2 linked regions of the Homo sapiens genome follow. The protein of the gene in region 1 purifies or fractionates together with the protein of each later gene. This does not show direct contact. Each region holds a gene or a part of one and is shown on either strand. Other genes may lie near its edges. The genes, in order: CRTAC1 and TRAPPC9.

Region 1 (3,814 bases):
GTGTAGTGATAGTTCCATTAATGCCACAGATATACTGTATATCTGTTCATGTGCTATATGCATGTTGATGCTTTTTTTATTTTTTGAGACAGAGTCTCACTCACTCCAGCATAGGCTGGAGTGCAGTGGTGCAATCACGGCTCACTGCAGCCTCTACCTCCCTGGGCTCAGGCGAGCCTCCCACCTCAGTCTCCCAGGTAGCTGGGACTACAGGCATGCGCCACCACGCTTGGCTATTTTTTTTGTACTTTTGGTAGAGATGAGGTTTCGCCATGTTGCCCAGGCTAGTCTCGAACTCTTGAGCTCAAGGGATCCACCTGCCTCAGCCTCCCAAAGTATTAGGATTATAGGCATGAGCCACTGTGCCCAGCCCCTGATGCTTTTACATATATATATATATATATATATATATATATATATATATATATATATATATATATGATAGGATTTTGTCATCCCCCTGCCCTTGCCAAGAACCCACTCTCTCCCCTTTGGGGTGACTTCACTCCCGTTGAGAACGCATGGTTTCCCAAGCCTTCTGTCCAAGACTGAACCAGCTCCCAAGAGGCCAGGGAAACAGCTGGTTTGGACACGTTTGGTGCAGCCCAGCATTTGAACAAGCCTACAGCCTTGAACAAATGGAGGATTAAACACTCTGACCCCAAGGTGAACTAATTCCACAGAGGCACTGGGGTGGGGACTCCAGCAAGTGAGATGCATGAAAATCTAACCAGCACTTCCCACTCGCCTCTTCTTGAGCTCAGGCTCATCTCAGAGTAGGGTTTGTCCCCAGTAGCTGGTGTCCACCATGGCTGTCACAGTAGAGCGGAGCGGTGCCCAAGGATGCTCGGGCTGTGAGTCCCTGAATCAGTCAGCATCCTGATAACAGCTCACTGTCCCCCACCGGACCCCGACTCACCCAGGCCAAAGTGTGCCACGGGCTCCATCTCACACAGGTAGCCTGAGCCCCCGTCGATGATCCTCAGGTGGGCCCCACTCTTCTTGGTGTAGAGCACGACCTTAGCTCCCCTGGCAAAGGCCCCAAACCGGGTGCGTGGCACCACTCGCAGCCAGTTGTTGTTGAAGCCCTGCAGAGAGGGTGAGAGGCAGACACCCGGTGGGCATCAGCATGGTGGGTGGGAAGAGCAGGGAGCCAGGGAGGACGGGAGGGGGAGAGGGAGAAGAAGGAGGAAGAGAAGAAAGCAGGCAGAGGAAAAAGATAGAAACAGGAAGCCAAACAAGAAAAATGAATGAGGCGAAGACAGATTGGCTGAATGAAGGAGAGGCACTGCAGACAGAGGAGACAAAAGCCGAGGGACTCAGGGCACAGTGTTTGGCAGATAAATGATACTGGAAGGCAGAGAGGCAAGGGCTTCTCCCAAGGCGGCCCTTCCTGAGCTTCCCGGTGCTGCTGGAATTTACTTCCCTCCTCCAGGGCCCGGGACTTCCATTACCCACCATGCTGGCCAAGCCAGCACCCCGGCACCTTGCCCTCACCAACTCAAGGTACCCGAGAGCACACAGGGCTGGGATCTGTGGCTCCTGAGGTCTTAGCGCACCTGATTGCCCCGGAAGACGGACAGCGGCTGAGCCATGGACTCTCCATGGGACAAGATGAGGTCCAGCATCCCGTCTCCGTCGAAGTCGGTCACCACACCCCCTACAAACAATGCAGATTTCACCTCTGGCCGTAATCCAGGAGACCCACAAAGGAGACACGCTCCCAACCAAGTGCAGTATCCACAGCCCTGGGCGTGGGAGCCAGAGAAAGCACAGCACCGGGGCAGGAAGGCTGGGGCTTGGCACCCATCTCCTATCCTTCCTAACAGCAGCCTCATGATAGGACTCACGGGACAGACATTTCCTTCCTTCCCCTGGTCTTTGCATGGAGAGGGTGTGTGCAAATTACTCAGACCACATGGTCTTCTTTCTGGTCTTTCTATTATGGTTTGAATAATACACACCTGTTATATTTGCACAGGTTTTTTTTTGTCAATTTACCAAGTGTTTGCATATACATAGGCTCCTTTTGGTCGTCATTACAACCCAAAGAGGTGAAGAGGGCAGATATAATTATCCCCATTTTATGAATGTGGAGAACAAGACCCAGAGGGTAAAGTCACTTTTCCAAGACCACAAAGTGAGGCAATGGCAGAGCTGGGTTCTGGGACCCCTGGCCCAGTGCTCTGTCTGACAACAAGCTGAGTGCCAAGAGGGGAGGGGTCAGATGGCAAGATCCTCTGCCTGAGAGCAGAAGGGGCTCTCTCCTCTCCTTTCCATCCCCACCTGGCAAGGCATGGCCAGAGAAGCTCCTGCCCACAGACCCACAGATTCCCATTCCCCCACCCCCCATCAGCCTGGGATTGGGGGAGTGGACCATCCTCTCCTCTGCTTCCTGCCTGGCCATCCCCAGGGTTCTCCCATCTCCACTCTCACCCCTGCCCTTGAGTCTCAGCCCTCAGTGTGGCAGGGACAGGAGTGGCTCTGCTGTGGGACTGGCTGCCCCGTCCCTCCCGCCCTCACCCCAGTGTATGAACAGTGCTAAGGGGGCAGTGCAGGCCAGATCCCCCAGGTGCCCCTCACCTGTGCCCCGGCCCTCAGGCTCCAAGGCGTCGCCGGGATTGAGCTCCTCGATGAGGGGGTCTCCGTGCTCTCTACGGATGACGCTGCAGGAGAGGAGACAGGCTTGCTCTGGTGGGGTCTCAGAGGCCGCTGGACCAGAAGGCCCACCTGCTCCATTCTGTCCCCTGAGCATCCCCGGGTCCCAATGTGCATGGGCTACCACCTGGCTGCCCACGGAGCCACTCTCTGCTCCCAGGCCCTGCCTATACTCTGCCTGTTCCCTGCCTGGGTTTTAATTTATGTTGGTAAATATTGATTTTTCCTTCTCTAATGGATGAATTATAGGCAGCCTGGGGAAGGGCAGTTGATGGATGAAGAAGGGGCAGGGACACAACTACCTTCAACCAACCTTCCTTGTCCTTCAAGTGGCCCCTGGGTTTCCTAGTTCTGGATGCTACCCAGGGTTTAACCCCACTCAATGCTACCTCCTCCATGCCCTCTTGGACCATCCTGCTGGAAGCAATCCCTTCTTTCTTCATGGGCTTTATTACTTTCTGCCTGTGTTACAGCTCTGTATAAATGCATCTGATCTCCCCTGGTAGAATGTGAGCTCTCTGCAGGCTGGGACCTTGCATTGTTCATCTTTGCTTCTCTTGCAGTATCTAACACAGTGCTTGGCTCTCAGAAAGCTCCAAGCACATGTCTGCAGGATACAAAGGTGAATTCCAGAGGCAAAGAGAGGAAAGGGGTCCCTTTGGGTTGCAGCGGTTCTGTTTGGAACTCTGAATCTTGATGTTATTTATTTCAGAAACGTCTGCTAGAAAAGTCCTGCTCTTTCTCTGCACTCAGCTGATGATGGCAGTGAGCTTTCCTCTAGAATTTTTCTCACTTGGTGTATTCTCACAGCCTTGGGTGCTCTGCCCTAGATGTGTGGGGCAATGATGGGAAGGTAGGGTGTAAGGAAGAATTGGCATCGCACTTCCTACCACATTGCAGGTTGCATGTGAGAAACACCAGAGGGCCGTGATACAGTCATAGCTTCAGGAGGGGGTCGGAGTCCCCTGAGCTGGAGCCTTTGGTGGCTGGGTGGCAGAAAGAGCTGGCAGATGCCCCATGAGGTGGGCTTGTGTGTTGGTGTGCATGAGTGTGATGCCCACAGTCCCTTTGACCATATGTGTCCTGCAGATTCTGCCACAGCTGTGCAGAGACACTTCTTGGTTCAGGTGACAATGCAGTTAAGGAGTCCTAAGGA
Region 2 (3,574 bases), on another chromosome or scaffold:
CTCCCTCGTCCAGCGACTTCCCTTTGGCCATAGAAAGAAATGGTGAGCATGAGACTGGGCACAGCCTGAGGGCGTGGGCAGCTTCCCACCCTCCCTGGGCCTTGGAATCCCCCAAGGCTGGTTTTCTTCCTGGAGACCCCCATGGGCAACTTGGCAGGAGAGATGGTGCCGTAGGAGGTCGTGGATGGTTGATGCCAAGAGAGGCCCTCCACCCGTGGTGGGCAAATGTCCAGGCCTGGGCTGGCAGCCCAGGGCTGTTTCTGGGTGCTCCCTGGCCCCAGGGTGGCGTCTGGTTACCATGGCTGTGTGTGTCCATGTCTGCAAGCAGTTCTTCAATAAATGGCCTGCCTCCCCCTCCCTGCCTCCCTGCATCTGCTAGCCCAGTGCAGTCCGGGGCCCCCACCCAGCCCGTCAGCCCCCACCTCAGGTGGCTGGCTTCCCAGCAGAAGCCGGACCCAGGAAGGGACGGGTTCTGAGTTAGAGATCTCACATAAGCAAACGCTGAGACAGGAATCTGGTCACCAGCAGCTTGTCTGGGAGGTGGAAGGAGGCCTGCAGGGGAGGGAGATCACCAGTGAAGGAGTGTGACTGGGCCCGAGCTGCCGCCACAGTGGGCAGCTGGCCCTGCGTTCCTCAGGGAGGACCGGAGAGAGAAAGCACACGGCTCACATCTCCCTTGAGGGCCAGAGCTGGGGTGTGTCTACACTACCCACAAGAGTCCTGTTCTGGGGGCAGGCTTCTGGCTGTGTTGACCCTTAGCTCCCCAGGTCCCAGGGAGGATAAACAGCCCTTGGTCCCCAGCAGATACCAGGCTCGTCAGGTGCCCGTTGGGCACTGAAACTCCCATGGAGTATTGGGGGACAGAGAGCGGGGCTTCCTAAAGGCCAGTTGGCCAAACAGGCAGAGCCAGGAAGTGGCTGCCCTGGCCTCCCATGGGGCAGAGTCATGTTGGCATCAGGAGGCCTGCGGGGCTGAGGGAACTTCCTGAGGACCTGAAGTCCCAGGCCCAAACCTCCCTCGCTGGGAGCAAGGTCACCCTGTGGCCTCCGGCCTAAGGAACAAATTTTTTGTTCCATCTGTGGCCTCCTGTTGTCGCTCAGTGAATGATGGGAGCACACTGTGATGTGGTGTGGGCTGGGGGCATGTGGGGGCGGGTGTCCAGTGGCCCTCAGTTCCTGGAGCTCATTCAGCATCTGCTCGAGGCTCCCCAGGGAAGGCAGCCCCAGAAGGTCTGGCTGCAGTAGGGGGTGGAGACCCCAGGGCGGTCTCTTCAGCCCTTCCGTTCAGGATGCCTCAGCGTAGTTGAGGGCCTGGCCACCTGGGCTGTTTCTGAATGGAACAAACAGCATCCATGTGTGTCAACCTCAACAGAGCCCAAAAATACGCCATTGAATGAAACAACACATTGCAGGATGATGGGCTCAGCCCAACCTCACTTGTGTAGACAATGTCCCCCCAAATTATAAATTTTCTATGCCTCAGAACGTGTCTATAACAACATGTTTAAAAGGTAGAAAGGATACACATCCCCTGTAGAAGAGTGACCTGAACTGGAGTTGCATTTGACATCTGATGTCAGCATGAGGGTGCTGGTCACCGGGGACTTGAGTACGTACTTTCCTTTCAAAAGCACAATAGATCAAGATACAGGTACACACATAGCTACAGATATAGATCCAGCCACAGATCCAGATTAGATATAGATGCATATAGAAGCCTAGAAAAGCCAATATGGAAAACTCTGGCAGTGTTTGATTCTGAGTGGCAAGCATATTGGTGACTGTAATTATTTCTTGCAGTTTTCTATATTTTTTAGTTTCCCAAACTGCAAAAAATACCCACAACAGTTACCAGAGAAAATGCTGGATGCCACAAGAAGGAAGAACCTCAAGGGGCAGGAGGCAAAGTTGTCTTCTTGGAGGAGGGGGTGTTAGAAATAACCCAGGCCTCCTGGAAAATGACCCAAATACAGCCTGGCTCTGCCAGCCCCAGGCCCTTCCCCACCCCCAGGGCACCCTTTCTGTCCCAGTAGAGAAGGTGACCTGGAGTCAGGCCTTGTGTGTGCTCCAAGCGTTTGGAGCTTTACCGTGGGATGTGGGGAGCCAGGGGTGTTGTTTGCTGGCATTTCTGTGGCTGGGTCTTTCTGGCTGTGGAGCTGTGTTTGTGGGCAGTGGCTGAGATGGAGGACCTGGGGCAGGTGTCTCAGTGACAGCGCAGTATCCTCCAGCCTCTTCCAGGGCCCCACGCTACTGGCTACCTGGCAATACAGTCCAGCAGTTGCTGCTTCTCTAGGCCCCTGGTGCATTCAGAAACCTCCTGAAGGCCAGCGGAGGGTAAGCCAGGAACAGATCATGTCCATTGCACTTCACTAGCTGAGCGAGTTGGTTCTGCCCTTCTGATCCTTGGTCCCTCAGGGCCAGGACAGGCCCGGTGACCCCATAATCATGCAGCCGTCATGCTCCGTCATCTGAAATTCACAAGGAAGGCAAGGATTCAAAGGAAGATGTCTGAGATGCTGAACTCCAGCTCAGCCACTTGTCAACTCCTTGACCTTGGACAAGTTACTTAAATTAAGCCTTGATTTTTTTTCATCTGAATAAATAGAGATAAAAATACTTATTTCATGGACACTTTCATATCAGTTTATTTGATTTAACCTCCTAGATTTTTTTTTAGCACATGATAGCAACTTCTTAATAAATACTGGGTCCCTTCTCCTAGCCTTCCCATTGCTGTTCTTTTTAATTCCATCCACATGTCCTGTGCCTGAAATATCCTGTGCCATGTGCCTGAAATTCCATTCTTCTCCTGGAACCCTTAACAGGCCACATTGCTATGCTCCGTTAGTCCCCTGCATGGCTTAATGTATTAGGTAACATGAAGCATGTAAGGAAGAACTTTCTAACACAGGTGCTGAAATGGGACAGGAAATGCTGATGGAGTGAGCTCTTTGTCAATAGAAGTATTCAAGCAAAGTCCGGACCTGTAGATGGTTTCAAAACATGTAAGCATCATTTGGGGCTTCTGAGCCTACCAGCCAAGAAATTGTCAATGATGACTTGTTAAGAGGTATTTCTGATCCCAGTAAGCAGGGAAGAGAGAGAGATGTATGTGACCACATGGCTCTTGGGGCCTCAAGCAATGTCTTAAGACACAATAAATTTTGATCAAAAAAGGCTTTCAACATGAAGGGCTAGAGATCTAGACTAAGGGTCTAGGCTAAGCCTCTTACTGAAAACACATTTGTAAGTGCATCCATGACCCGGCAGGAGAGTCAGAAATATTCACCCCAGTACCTGTGTGTAGGCAAAGTCCTGGGAGGTGAGCTGTGCACTGATGCCAACTTCCACTTTGAGGGGTTTTGCCAAAGCTGGAGTATCAATGTCTTCAGCCTTCCAAAACTGGAGGAAAGATGACAAAGCTCAGGGCCCACTGGCTGGGGAATCGAATAGATGACTGCTCCGCATCAATTTGAGAGCCTAAAGATTACACCTTTAGTAAAGGATGAACTAAAAATAATCCTCTTCCCACCCTACTAGGAGAGTAGATATAACACTTCCCTGTCTTGACCCTT

Evidence for each region.
Region 2: the proteins of CRTAC1 (region 1) and TRAPPC9 purify together in Homo sapiens (affinity purification with mass spectrometry; 2 studies listed by BioGRID and IntAct, with this or other methods). This does not show direct contact.

What each region holds. Positions count from the first base shown.
Region 1 is NC_000010.11:97,894,326-97,898,139, forward strand, and holds part of CRTAC1 (cartilage acidic protein 1 isoform A precursor), read right to left. Parts: intron 2,667-3,814; coding exon 2,584-2,666; intron 1,661-2,583; coding exon 1,560-1,660; intron 1,089-1,559; coding exon 920-1,088; intron 1-919.
Region 2 is NC_000008.11:139,727,126-139,730,699, reverse strand, and holds the end of TRAPPC9 (trafficking protein particle complex subunit 9), read left to right. Parts: 3' UTR 1-2,975; downstream 2,976-3,574. UniProt on the Homo sapiens protein: Functions as an activator of NF-kappa-B through increased phosphorylation of the IKK complex. May function in neuronal cells differentiation. May play a role in vesicular transport from endoplasmic reticulum to Golgi.